2 linked regions of the Homo sapiens genome follow. The protein of the gene in region 1 interacts with the protein of each later gene in a biochemical or structural test. Each region holds a gene or a part of one and is shown in the gene's direction. Other genes may lie near its edges.

Region 1 (7,026 bases):
CACTCCAGCAGCCTGGGCGACAGAGCAAGACTATCTCAAAAAAAGAAAGTAAAAAGAGAATCCTGGAAATGAGTAAGCCAAAAAGGAGTAGTCCCAAATTCTGTTCATAAATTCTGCCCAAATCTCTGACCCTTTTAGCCATGTAGATTCAAGGCAGACTCCAAATAGCCCAACTAAGGATATAAAAACTGATATTTGATTACCTACGTATGGTGACATGCACCTGTAGTCCTAGCTCCTCGGGAGGCTGAGGCGGGAGGATGCTTGAGCCCTGGAGTTGAGGTTACAGTGAGCAGTGATTGCGCCACTGCACTCCAGCCTGGATGACGGAGCAAGACAGTCTCAAAAAAAGAACAAAAACGCCCTGATGTCTGAGGTGCTGTTCAAAAGATAAGAGTTTTCCATTTGAGTATAATCAAATTAGCTACCTGATAAAACCAAAAATATGACACTTCCAAGGAATGTAACGGAATCCATTCTTTCCACATACAACATTCACAATGACTACAATGCAGTTACTCAGCATACAACAAAACAGACAAGTCTGACTTATTCTCATCAAAATAACAATCAATAAAGACCTAACTTCAAGATGACTCAGATGTTGGAATTAGCAGACAGATTTTAAATGCCCGCCTTCACTATTTGACCAAGAAATAAATGTCTCTTGTATTTGAGTCATTGTATTGTTTTGTGTTTATAGCATCACCACAACTAGTACAGAAAATGGTACACTGAAGTAGACTGCTACCTTAACAGAAATGAAAACAGTGTATAGAAGGCATTATAACTATACTCAGTGACAGAAAGGAAATATGTTCATGTTGAATGAAGAGATAGAAATCTTGGCAGAGAATAGAAACTATGAAAAAGAAACAAATGGCTGGGCACGGTGGCTCGTGCCTGTAATCCCAGCACTTTGGGAGGCCAAGGCAGGTGGATCATGAGGTCAGGAGATTGAGACCGTCCTGGCTAACACAGTGAAACCTGTCTCTACTAAAAATACAAAAAAATTAGCCGGGCGTGGTGGCACACGCCTGTAGTCCCAGCTGCTTGGGAGGCTGAGGCAGGAGAATTGCTTGAACCCGGGAGGCAGAGGTTGCAGTGAGCCAAGATCGCGCCACTGCACTCCAGCCTGGGTGACAGAGTGAGACTGTCCAAAAAAAAAAAAAAAAAAAGAAAAAGAAACGAGTGGAAATTCCACACCTGAAAAATACAGTATCTGAAGTAACTTCACTGGATCGGGTATATATAATGTAAAAAAGCAAGGTGCAGAACTGTGTGTATGTGTGTGTAGTGTTCATTGTGTAACGAAGTTAGCATAAACATGACTATTATATGTATTTGCTTATATTTGGGAATAAACCCAAAGGATTTTTTTTTTATCCAAAGGATTAAAGATACTGATTTACATATATTGTTGAATGTGGAATCTACCATGAAAGAGATGTAAAACTAGAATCAACAAGCATATGCTTTAGAACATGTAGTTGAGAGAGGTATCTGGGCAAAGTGCCTCTTGGGATGTCTGCTGAGTCCAATTCTCAGTATTTAAACTGCTGGACACAGATCTAGGTATTCCATAGCCTAGTTGTATCAGATGTATGGATTGTGCATCATGAAATGAACATCCTGTGTTCTGAGAAGCTCAGATAACCTCATAAGTCTTCTCTTTCTTTGTGTGTCGTATTTTCTAGGACCTCATAGTTGACCAGACGATAGAGAAAGTTTCTTTCTGTGCCCCAGACAGGAACTTTGATAGAGCCTTTTCTTACATATGCCGTGATGGCACCACTCGTCGCTGGATCTGTCACTGCTTCATGGCTGTCAAGGACACAGTGAGTCCAGCAAATATGTATTTCATGATGAGTATTCTCAGTTAGCTGGGCTCTTTCTGGGTTTGCTCAGCCAAGCGGTTTCTACTACATTTTTAACAAGTACTTGGAAGTGCCTAAACTAGCCTACTTTCAGCTCCTTTTATTCAAATAGTTCACACTCTTGATGTAACCCCAGGAGTTGCAACTCACTGAACAAAATGATTGGCTGAAACCAAAGATCATTAAAGGAAGGTAAAAATGGTCTGGTGATAGTGGTTGCTAAACTTTATTTGAAACTTTTAATTATTGGAAGTATTTTCAGGGTTCTTAAATGTATTTGTTGGCTAACATATATGAGTATGGTATTAAAAATGTATTTGCATAGAGACTACTACAAATGAAAGAAGTTGGCTGGGCCTGATGGCTCACCCCTATAATCCCAGCACTTTGGCCAGGGCAGGAAGATCACTTGAGACCACAAGTTGGAAACTAACCTGGGTTACATGGCAAGACCTCATCTTTACAAAGTTAAAGAAAAAATTAGCCAGGCATGGTGGCACATGCATGTAGTCCTAGCTACATTCTACATGCCTTGGGAGGCTGAGGCGAGCAGAACACTTGAGCGTAGGTGTTGGAGGCTACAGTGAGTCATCGTGCCATTACACTCCAGCCTGGGTGACAGAGTGAGACCTTGTCTCCAAAAACAGAACAAAACAAAAAAACAAAACTGAGTTGGAGTATACTTTCAACTATTATAAAAACAGAAATACCGGCCAGGCACGGTGGTTCACACCTGTAATCCCAGCACTTTAGGAGGCCGAGGCAGGCGGATCACGAGGTCAGGAGTTCAAGACCAGCCTGGCCAATATGGTGAAACCCCGTCTCTACTAAAAATACAAAAAAATTAGCTGGGCGTGGTGGTGCATGCCTGTAGTCCCAGCTACTCGGGAGGCTGAGGCAGAAGAATCGCTTGAACCCAGGAGGTAGAGGTTGCAGTGAGCTGAGATTTGTGCCACTGACTCCATCCTGGGTGACAGAGCAAGACTCTGGCCAAAAAAAAAAGAAAAAAGAAATACTGGCCGGGCATGGTGGCTCACACCTGTAATCCCAGCACTTTGGGAGGCCGAGGTAGGCAGATCACCTGAGGTCAAGAGTTCAAGACCAGTCTGGCCAACATGGTGAAACCCTGTCTCTACTAAAAATGCAAAAGTTAGCCAGGTGTGGTGGCGCATGCCTGTGATCCCAGCTACTTGGGAGACTGACTCAGGAGAATCGCTTGAACTCGGAGGCAGAGGTTGCAGTGAGCCAAGATTGCACCACTGCACTCCAGCCTGGACGACAGTAAGACTCCGTCTCAAAAATAAAACAAAAATAGGCCAGGCACGGTGGCTCACGCCTGTAATCCTAGCACTTTGGGAGGTTGAGGTGGGCAGATCACTTGAGGTCAGGAGTTGGAGACCAGCCTGGCCAACATGATGAAACCCTGTCTCTACTAAAAATACAAAAATTAGCCGGCTGTGGTGGCGGGTGCTTGTAATCCCAGTTATTCAGGAGGCTGAGGCACGAGAATCGCTTGAACCCAGGAGGCAGAGGTTGCAGTGAGTCAAGATTGCACCACTGCACTGCAGCCTAGGTGACAAAGCAAGACTCCATCTCAAAAAAAAAAAACAAAAAACAAAAACTAAACAGAAATACTAAGTTACGGTAGAATGAACAACGCTAGAAATTGTTGCATGATAGAAGTTTTGTTTTAAAATAGAGAATAATTTCATTCTTTATGTAAATTACCCAGCATTTTAACATGAAAGACAAGTCTCTTTTAAATGACAATGATTTTACTATAAGTTGAGCATTTCAAATCCGAAAATCTGAAATGCTCCAAAATTCTAAACTTTTTGAGCACCGACATGACACTCAACAGAAATACTCATTGGAGCATTTTGGATTTTGGCTTTTCGGATTTGGGATGTCAGCTTGTTAAGTATAATGCAAATATTCCAAAATCTGAAAAAAATCTAAAATCAGAAACACTTCTGGTCCCAAGCATTTCAGAAAAGAGATACTCAAACTGTATGTACAGCAAGTGTCGAGACAGAATAGGCAGTATAGCCATTCGTGAAGGTTACAGGTCAGTAAAGCTCTTGCCAACGTTTAATCTGGAAGATAAGTAGTGGCCATGGTCTAAAAATTGACCAAAATTGTTTAAAGATCTTTGAGACATTGGTGTAAACAAATGCTAAGAGCTCAGGCTCTGAGTCAGATATGGGTTTCAGTTCTGATTCTGGTTCTTACTAGCTGTGGGATTTGGGGCAAGTTACTTAACATTCTCTGTCTTGGTATACACTTCTATAAATGGAGAAAGTGGTTGTGAATACTAAATTGGATAAAGATTATAAGCACACTTAGCATAGGTTCTGGGCCACATTACTCCAAAAATTTTAGCGAATATTGTGTAAGCTGTCCTTCATTGGTTTGACACAGGTGCTTTGAAATGAGTTGAAGTAACAAAACTGTGCTTTTGTCTTCTGTTTCTCAGACCCTAAGTAAACCACAAACTGGGTATATTTTGCTATCACTACACTTTAAAAATCTGGAGTTCAAGAGTTTCCAGATAATAACTTAAAAACCATTTTGTTGTCAAATAGTGGCCCGGCAGCCTGTTTGAATCTCCTAGGCCAATAGTTCTACTGTATCAAAATCACCTGGAGGACTTGTTTTAAAACATAGATTGCTGGGCCCCATCTCCAGCGTTTTTCATTCAGTGAGTTTGGGGTTGGTACTTAAGAATTTGCACTTAAATGTTCCCAGATGATGCTGTTGGTTGGGGATGAGGTCACTCTTCAACAACTTCTGCCCTAGGCCTAGGAGAAAGAATAAGCAAGCTTCCTTGACCTGTAGCTCTGTCCTTATAATAGACCTGCGTTCAAATGCAAACACATTCTAAGAATCTTTCAGTACTCCTGTTTCATGCTTTAACATCTGGCCTAATGTCATCCTACTGGGAAGTTAGATGGAAACTCATGTGGATTCATAGAGTAATTCTATCAGTCTTTAAATAAGTAGTCAAAAGTTTTTTTAAAAAGTTTAAAAATTTTTAAAAAGTAGTCAAAGGTAGTAAAATCTTAGGGACATAAAGCATTTTAAACCTTACCTGTCCTTATGATAACTAATACTGTCATGCAAAATCCAGTGAGACGACTTGTTCAGAGCCGTGTGTAGGAGCAGCTGCCTACGTGATGTGATTTTGAGAACACCACAAAAGACTTCCTGTTCCCAAATATCTCTTCTCACTGTGAATGATGCCAACAATTATTGTACCATCTCTAGCTTTTTTATTCCACAATTAGCAAAATGGTCTAAAATACAGATAACCCTGCTAAAAATCATCCATTGAATTTATTAAATTGACTCTGGGTAATCCAGTGTATCTATATAAAGCAGTGTTTTGTTTATATACGTCCTCCACTCCTCCCATACACAAACCAGTTTTATCTGCTTAATTCTTTTATAAGTAGACAGTGTGGATGAAAACATGCTTTCACTTTTGCCTGTGTTTGGTTGGGAGGTAGAGTTGGGAATTAGAGCTAGAGGAAGATAGGAAGGGTATGGGGGAAAACCTAAAAGCACGGAGGGCCATAAATGAGGAGGGTTGCTTAGAGGGGGGATTCAGAAAGGGGAGACAGCAAAGCTTTTGTCTCATTGTTAGTTTTGTTTGTTTGTTTGTTTTTTGAGACAGGGTCTCATTATGTCACCCAGGCTGGAGTGCAGTGGCACAATTAGAGCTTACTGTAGGCTTAAGTGATCCTCCCACCTCCCAAGTAGGACCACAGACACACACCACCACCACACTCGACTAATTTTTTCTTTTTCTTTTTTTTTAATTATTATTTTTTTTGAGACGGAGTTTTGCTCTTGTTGCCCAGGCTGGAGTGCAATGGCACGATCGTGGCTTACTGCAACCTCCACCTCCTGGGTTCAAGTGATTCTCCTGCCTCAGCCTCCCGAGTAGCTGGGATTACAGGCATGCGCCATCATGCCTGGCTAATTTTGTATTTTTAGTAGAGACAGGGTTTCTCCATGTTGGTCAGGCTGGTCTTGAACTCCTGACCTCAGGTGATCCGCCCACCTCAGCCTCCCAAAGTGCTGGGATTATAGGCATGAGCCACTGTGCCCGGCCTTTATTTTGATTTTTATTTATTTTTTGAGACGGAGTTTTGCTCTTGTTGCCCAGGCTGGAGTGCAATGGCGCCATCTCAGCTCACAGCAACCTCTACTTCCCGACTTCAAGCAATTCTCCTGTCTCAGCCTCTCAAGTAGCTGGGATTACAGGCACCCGCCACCACATCCGGCTAATTTTTGTATTTTTAGTAGAGACGGGGTTTCGCCACGTTGGGCAGGCTGGTCTCGAGCTCCTGACCTCATGATCCACCCATCTCAGCCTCCCAAAGTGCTGGGATTACAGGTGTGAGCCATCGCACCTGGCCTAATTTTTTTTATTATTTTGGTAGAGACAGAGTCTCACTGTGTTATCCAGGCTGGTCTCAAACTCCTGGGCTCAAGCAATTTGCCCATCTCAGCCTCCCAAAGTGCTGGGATTACAGATGTGAGCCACCATGCCCAGCCTCATTCCTTTTTAATCACTGGAATTATATTTGTTTATCAGAAGTTTTAAGTTTGCACCTTTTTTTCCTAGACATATTAACAGTGCATTAAGCTCCTGAAATTTGCCTTGCCTTTCCAGTAGTTTCTTAGAAGTGGCTGGTAAATATTCCCACTGCTTCCCCAAAGGGCAACTAGAAGCTTGCATGTCAAGGCTTGAAACCTTGCATAGAGTCTTCTAAGCTGTTGGCCAGGGCTGACATGACAGAGCCTAAGTGATAAAGAGTTCTCCATGGCTGCTTACAAAAGCACAGGTTGCTGGTTATCACTTTACCCCAAGGCTTGTAACAGTGAATTGAACCATCATAAGCACTACCTTAGAAAATTTATTCATTTAAATTAATATGGCATACTAATCTATTAAAACAATTTTAAGCTGGAATTTGCAACATCTTGCTTTCATAAAAACAGACATTTGGGCCGAGTGTGGTGGCTCATGCCTGTAATCCCAGCACTTTGGGAGGCTGAATTGGGTAGACCACTTGAGGCCAGGAGTTGGAGACCAGCCTGCCCAACATAGCAAAACCCCATCTCTACTAAAAATACAAAA
Region 2 (7,026 bases), on another chromosome or scaffold:
CAGACAACGTTTGTGTTCAGGGAGCTTCTGTGTGCAAAGCCCAGGGCTTGGTGCTGAGGCCAACAGAGACGCAGGAGTCTCTCCCGGGCGGCCCAGCTGGCTGCTGGGTGCTGAGTCCTGGACGCCCCTGCTGAAGGGCACAGGGCAGCTGTTTGATTCAGGATTGGGATAGGGTTGGAGGTGGTGGCCTGACACTTCCCAAGCCCTGGGGTTTTACTGGAGCCACCCACCTGGCCTCTAGATTGGCCGGAAACTGGCTTCCACTGGAGGCAGGACTGTAGGGGTAGGGGCGTGGGGCAGGAAGAGGTCAAAGGTGAAGTGATGGCCGACTCCCACTCTGGAGTTCCTGGTGGTCAGACTTTTGGACTCCAGGTCAGGCAGCAGGCGTGGATGTCAGCTTGGGGCGACCCCAGGGTGATGGGTGTGTGACCCCCCTCCATTCCTTACTTTCCTAATCTGCCATGATGCTGTGGGCTGTGGCGAAGACCAGCCAGGTTGGTTCCTGTGGGGTGCTTGGGCACTGGGGGCAGGTGCTGGGTGGCCAGTTCCAGCAGGAAGGGGTGGGTAGCTGGGGCGTCTGTCCCCCAGGCCCAGGTGGCCCAGGGTGACTGGGTGAGGCCTGTGGGGCAGGTGGGCCCTGGGCTGCTGTGTCAGGGCCGCGGCTGTGGACCGATCCTGTGTTCTGTTTGCACTGGAGTTCTTGTCTGGGATGAGAACTTTGTTTCTTGAAACTTGTCTGATGAATTCAGATAACCTTGATGGGGAGCCAGCAGTGTCAGCGAAGAGCAGAGCCTGTATCTCTGGTTGGGACATCTCACACCCCTTCAGGCTTCTTTTTATAGGCCCTGTGCTCTTGCCCCGCGCTCTTGTGGGTGTCAGAAAGCCGTAGATTTTTCTGAAAATTCAGTGTGTTCACAAGGGTGTGATTCCCGCTCTGAGTTTCAGGAAACACCAGCTGGGCCCTGTGGTGGTCCCTCCCCTCCACGCAGGGTGAGACCAGCTCTTGCTCAGTGCAGGAGGTGAGGGGGGACCTCGGGTCCCTATCAGCAGGGAAGTGCCAGCCTTCAAAGGGTGCCTGGGAGTCCGTGAGCTTCCCCAGCCCCTGGAGTTCAGGTCCTGTCTGGGGCTGAAAAGATAAAACACACTGACTCTGTGTGACTCGGTTTTAAAAAAAAAAAAATCTGCCGGGGCTTCTGCCGTGGCTGCAGCAACGGACCCAGTGCCCACTCCGGGGTCTAAAGAGTGGCCTTTCATTATGGAATTATTTAATCCCCGCCACTTCACCGCTGGCACCGTCGAGGTCTGGGGGCAGGTCTGACTGGTTTCCTTTACCTTAGTGAAGCCGGCGGCCTGCACCGACCCGGCTCGCGCCCATCCCGGGGTCACCCACATTTGGGTGAACTTGAACGAGTGCCCGACCAGGTAACGTTGCCGGACCTCCCACAAGAGGGCACTTTCTTTTCTCCCATTTTGTCCTCATTCTTTCCAGCCAGGTAGGTCGCGCTTTTTTCTCTGTGCAAGGAAGTTGATGGTGGTCATTTTTTTTTTTTTTTTTTTAATACGGAGTCTCTCTCTGTCGCCCAGGCTGGACTGCAGTGGCGCGATCTCGGCTCGCTGCAAGCTCCGCCTCCCGGGTTCACGCCATTCTCTTGCCTCAGCCTCCCGAGTAGCTGGGACTACAGGCGCCCGCCACCGCGCCTGGCTAATTTTTTGTATTTTTAGTAGAGACGGGGTTTCACCGTGTTAGCCAGGATGGTCTCGATCTCCTGACCTCGTGATCCACCCGCCTCGGCCTCCCAAAGTGCTGGGATGACAGGTGTCAGGCACTGTGCTTGGCAATGGTGGCCATTTTTTAAACTATGGTTATGGTTAATGGTTCTATTTTGTGTGTGGGAGGGGGGAGGGGGTGGGGCTGTCATATTGTCTTTGGGGAAAGTTTCATTTATCTAATCAATGATTTGGTTAGTTGGTAATCATTTTTTAATTTGATTCAAATATGCCCCACGGTAACAGATGCCCATGTCCCCTCTGCCCCAGGGACATCTTCATCACCAGCGTGGACGCCGCCACGACCTTCGAGGAGCTCTGTGAGGAAGTGAGAGACATGTGTCGTCTGCACCAGCAGCACCCGCTCACCCTCAAGTGGGTGGACAGCGAAGGTAGCCCTTGTCCCATGTTGGCCAGAATCCTCAGCCTCAGGGGACTTCGCCAGGGCAGCCTCTGTGTGCGGAGTGTGCTCAGCCAATTCTGTGGGGAGACTTAAAGCTGTGGAATTAAACTTGTTGGCGCCAACTTTTCCCCAGTGGGGATGGTGGGAAAGAGGTTGGCCACAGATGCTTATCAAGGACCTGGGCCCAGATGCCCCTAGGAAGGGCTCTGGTCTTGAACTGCCTGCAGGGGGTCTCCCTGCCCCACCCTGGGCAGGTCCTCACCTCTTCCTCTGACCTCCTTTCTCATGTCCTGGCCTTTTTCGGTAGGTGCTTCTGAAAGGATGGGCTCTTCATATTCTAGGGACCACGGGGAGGGCACAAGCAGCCAGGGCCTGCCGTGTCCACCTCCTGTCTCTTAGACACATCCTGAAAAACAAGGGGATTGGGAGACGTCCAGAGAGACCCCTTTCTCCCAGGGACTGGCGGGCAGCTCTTGGCCAAGGACACGGCCGTGCGGGTGGAGCCTGATAGCGCCCCCGTTGGGTTGGGTACAGCCCTGCAGGGCCTGGGTTCTGTACACCTCCATGTCCCTTTCCAGCCATAGAGGGCAAGGAGCTCTCCCTCCGCCCAGGACTGACCTCCGGAGAGTGTCCTCAGCCCCGCTCACTGCTTAGCCCTCCAAGTGGTGCCCAGGGCTGCAGGTGTACTGACTTCCCTTCCGGGGTGGCTCTGACGCTGCACCGGGGGCCAGGTGACTCCCTAGTGTGGACGGCCGTCCTTGGACCTCCCGACCCTGCCAGGAGGTGGCCAGTCTGAGCATCGGGACTTTGCCCCCCACCAGACCCTTGTCTGGTGTGCTGAGCGGGCTCGTCACAGCCCCCTTTGCCTCGGGCCTTCGGCGACGTCAGCACCGTCTCCTGCCCCACCCAGGTGACCCTTGCACGGTGTCCTCCCAGATGGAGCTGGAAGAGGCTTTCCGCCTGGCCCGTCAGTGCAGGGATGAAGGCCTCATCATTCATGGTTAGTGGCGGGGTCTGTGGTGGGCAGCTCTGGGGGGCTGTTCCTGGCTGTGGGTGTCTGCCGACTAGCTGGGGGATTTAAAATGGTTTAAAATCCTATGATGCCAGAGAATTTAGGGATGTCTAATATAATGCCATTTGGGTTTTTTTCTTTGACTTTTTTTTTTTTTTTTTGAGACGGAGTCTTGCTCTGTTGCCCAGGCTGGAGTGCAGTGGCACAATCTCAGCTCACTGCAAGCTCCGCCTCCTGGGTTCATGCCATTCTCCTGCCTCAGCCTCCCGAGTAGCTGGGACTACAGGCGCCCGCCACCACGCCCGGCTAATTTTTTGTATTTTTTGTAGAGACGGGGTTTCACCGTGTTAGCCAGGATGGTCTCAGTCTCCTGACCTCGTGATCTGCCTGCCTCAGCCTCCCAAAGTGCTGGGATTACAGATGTGAGCCACCGCGCCCGGCCTTTTCTTTGACATTTTATTAACCCAAATGAAAACTGCTCTTAACAAAGAACCCGTAAACCACTCAGAGGCTCCAGTGGCCAGCGTAGGGCCCGCGGCGCATGTGGACAGAGGGGACAGCCCCACCAGCCACCTCACCTGCCCGGTGCTCCCTAGGCCCGGCTCCAGGCTCACAGCTGTCCTCAGCTTTAAGTTCAAAGCCCCATGATGAGCTGACGCATGGGAGATGTGATTGTGATCATTTCCACTTTGTCTTTAGGTGGGCGTGGGCTCCTCCCCGGTACTGCTGGGGGTCTGCAGGGCGTCTGGGGCCTGGGAATGTGGTTCCAGCGCTGTGGCCAGCCGGTCACGTCTTTGTCTCTGTGTCCACTTCTGGCGTAGCTTGGGCTCCTTGCCAGGCGTCTGGCCATGGACGATTGAGTCCAAGATGGGACCAAAGCTCGAAACCACCCATGGATTTCTGACAGATCCATCATTCTCCTGGACACCGGGCTACCTGGTTACAACACTTAATTTTCTTCGCCCTTTATATCAATGAGGCTCTAAATTTAAAGACTAGGCCGGGTGCGGTGGCTCACAACTGTAATCCCAGCACTTTGGGAGGTCAAGGTGGGAGGATCGCTTCAGCCTAGGAGTTCAAGACCAACCTGGGCAACATAGTGAGACCCCCCCCTCTCCAAAACTTGTTTTATTTTTTTGAGACAGAGTCTGGCTCTGTCCCCAGGCTGGAGTGCAGTGGCACTATCTCTGTTCACTGCAACCTCCACCTCCCAGATATAAGCGATTGTCCTGCCTCAGCCTCCCGAGTAGCTGGGACTACAGGCATGTGCCACCACACTTGGCTAATTTTTTTTTTTTTTTAGTTGGAGTCTCGCTCTGTCGCCCAGGCTGGAGTGCAGTGACGCGATCTCAGCTCAATGCAACCTCCGCCTCCCGGGTTCAAGCAATTCTTCTGCCTCACCCTCCCAAGTAGCTGGGACTACAGGCATGTGTCATCACGCCTGGCTAATGTTTTGTATTTTTAGTAGAGACGGAGTTTCACCATGTTAGCCAAGATGGTCTCGATCTCCTGACCTCGTGATCCACCCGCCTCAGCCTCCCAAAGTGCTGGGATTACAGGCGTGAGCCACGGTGCCCGGCCTAATTTTTGTATTTTTAGTAGAGATGGGGTCTCGCCATGTTGGCCAGGCTGTTCTCAAACTCCTGACCTTAGGTGATCTGCCTGCCTCAGCTTCCTGAAGTGTTGGGATTACAGGCGTGAGCCACGGTGCCCGGCCCCAATTTTTTTTTTTTTTTTTTTTTTTGATATTCAGACGTGGTGGTGCACCTGTAGTCCCAGTTACTCGGGAGGCTGAGGTGGGAGGATTCCTTGAGCACAGGAGGTAGAGGCTACAGTGAACTGTGATTATTCCACTGCACTCTAGCCTGAGTGATGGGGCGAAACCCTGTGTCAGATAAATAAATTCATAGATGTGCCTAATCTAGTCCTTTTTATTGTGGTTGTGATAGTAAGCACATTTTGCCTCTCTATGTGGAAAGATACAGTGGCTTAAAAATTCACATTGTTTTCTAGATAAAAGAAAAATAGGGCTGGGTTCAGTGGCACACACTTGTAATCCCAGCACTTTGGGAGGCCGAGGCAGGTGGATCACTTGAGGTCAGGAGTTCAAGACCAGCCTGACCAACATGGTGAAACCCCATCTCTACTATAAATACAAAAATTAGCCGGGCGTGGTGGTGTACACTTGTAATCCCAGCTACTTGGGAGGCTGAGGCAGGAGAACTGCTGGAACCCGAGAGGTGGAGGTTGCAGTGAGCTGAGATTGTGCCACTGAGCTCCAGCCTGGGCACAGAGTGAGACTCCATCTGAAAAAAACCAACAAAAAACAAAAAATGTTTGTTTTTTTAAAGTTTCAATACTTTTATGTGTATACACACACACATAAAAAAGTAGAGATGGGGTTTCGTCATGTTGGCCAGGCTGGTCTTGAACTCCTGGCCTGAAGCCATCCTCTCATCTCGGCCTCCCAAAGTGCTGGGATTGCAGGCGTGAGCCATCATGTCCAGCCAAGTTTTAATACTTTCTAAGCACCTATTTTAATAATTTATTGTGGAAGCCCAGGATATATGTTAAAATAATTTTGAACTCTGTCTTGAGTATGAAGAAGTGGAATCTAAAGTGCTTTTAAAAGTCAGTGTTCAAAGTAATTGCATTTCTTTCCCATTTTTATATAGTTTAAAAATACAAATCAGTAGCTTCCTCTGATGGCTTTGCTGTCCAGGTCCCTCTGATTGCCTTTTACTCTAAGTTTTTCCGTGGGTTTTAAAGTCGGAGCCTGGCCTACGTAGACGCACGGGGTTTTGCGTCTCCCAGGAGCGGGCTCTCATTGGCAGTGCCACGTGCGCCTTGCGTGAAGTCCACGTGCTCAGCCTGACTGAGGCGGGACTTCCTCCGTGAGACTGTTGAGTGGCAGCCGCAGGGTCTTGACGCTGTCTCTTTCTCTCTCTTGTCCAGTTTTCCCGAGCACCCCTGAGCAGCCTGGCCTGCCATGTCCGGGAGAAGACAGTGAGTACTGGGGTTTCCTACGCCGGTCTCGCATGTTACGGGGTTGAACTGTTGATCCGTTGTGCCACGGAGGTGGCAGTGGTGCCGTTTTCGGAGGTTCACCCTCGTGGAGCGTCAGGGCAGGAGCAGCCGTGGTGACCGCAGGTGGGGTTTTCACTGCAGCTGCTGCCTGTGCGTGTTCTGGCTGACAGCACCACATGGCGGGGGACTCGCTTGGCTGGTTGGTAGCATGAGAAGTCCAGGGGTGCCCTGCCGTCTCCCTAGGAGGGAGGGGCCAGGTGGGAGGCTGGACACTGCTCCTTTGTGGCTGCCTCAGCTCACGACCACCCCTAGGCCAGTCGTCTGCTCCTCCTGGTCCCTGCTGGCCCCTGAGCTGGTGTGGGGGCTCCGTTCATCCCACACTGGCTCCATTGTTGGGAGAGGAAGGAGAGTGAGTCCCGGGGGCTGTGGCTTCAGAGGGAAGCTTCTGACCTCACTTCCTACTGCATCCCGGAGACTGTTGGGCCCTGAGCAGGTGGCTACGCTGCTCTCGGGCCGCGCATCCCATGGCTGTGCTTGGTGGGGTTCCACCCCCACTCTCCAGACCCCACACGGCCTCCAGCATCCGTGCCATGCCTTGTTCGTTGTGTGGGCAGGAGCTCCTGGACCGAGGCCGCTGCCTGTCCAGCGCAGGGCACGTGGCTCAGTGCCCTTCAGGCAGGGCTTCCCCCACCCCTGCTGCCAGGGCACACACCTCGCTGGCCTCAGGCTGGATGCTGGGTGTTGGCAGTGCCCTGTGTTGGGCGGGAACTGGGGGTGGGAGCAGATTCAGGCCAAGAGGGTGAGTGGGCAGTTGGGG

Evidence for each region.
Region 2: the proteins of NUMB (region 1) and PRKCZ form a complex in vitro, tested with the Homo sapiens proteins (one study listed by BioGRID and IntAct).

What each region holds. Positions count from the first base shown.
Region 1 is NC_000014.9:73,287,546-73,294,571, reverse strand, and holds part of NUMB (protein numb homolog), read left to right. Parts: intron 1-1,697; coding exon 1,698-1,838; intron 1,839-7,026. UniProt on the Homo sapiens protein: Regulates clathrin-mediated receptor endocytosis. Plays a role in the process of neurogenesis.
Region 2 is NC_000001.11:2,053,404-2,060,429, forward strand, and holds part of PRKCZ (protein kinase C zeta type), read left to right. Parts: intron 1-2,037; coding exon 2,038-2,159; intron 2,160-3,080; coding exon 3,081-3,170; intron 3,171-6,137; coding exon 6,138-6,188; intron 6,189-7,026. UniProt on the Homo sapiens protein: Calcium- and diacylglycerol-independent serine/threonine-protein kinase that functions in phosphatidylinositol 3-kinase (PI3K) pathway and mitogen-activated protein (MAP) kinase cascade, and is involved in NF-kappa-B activation, mitogenic signaling, cell proliferation, cell polarity, inflammatory response and maintenance of long-term potentiation (LTP).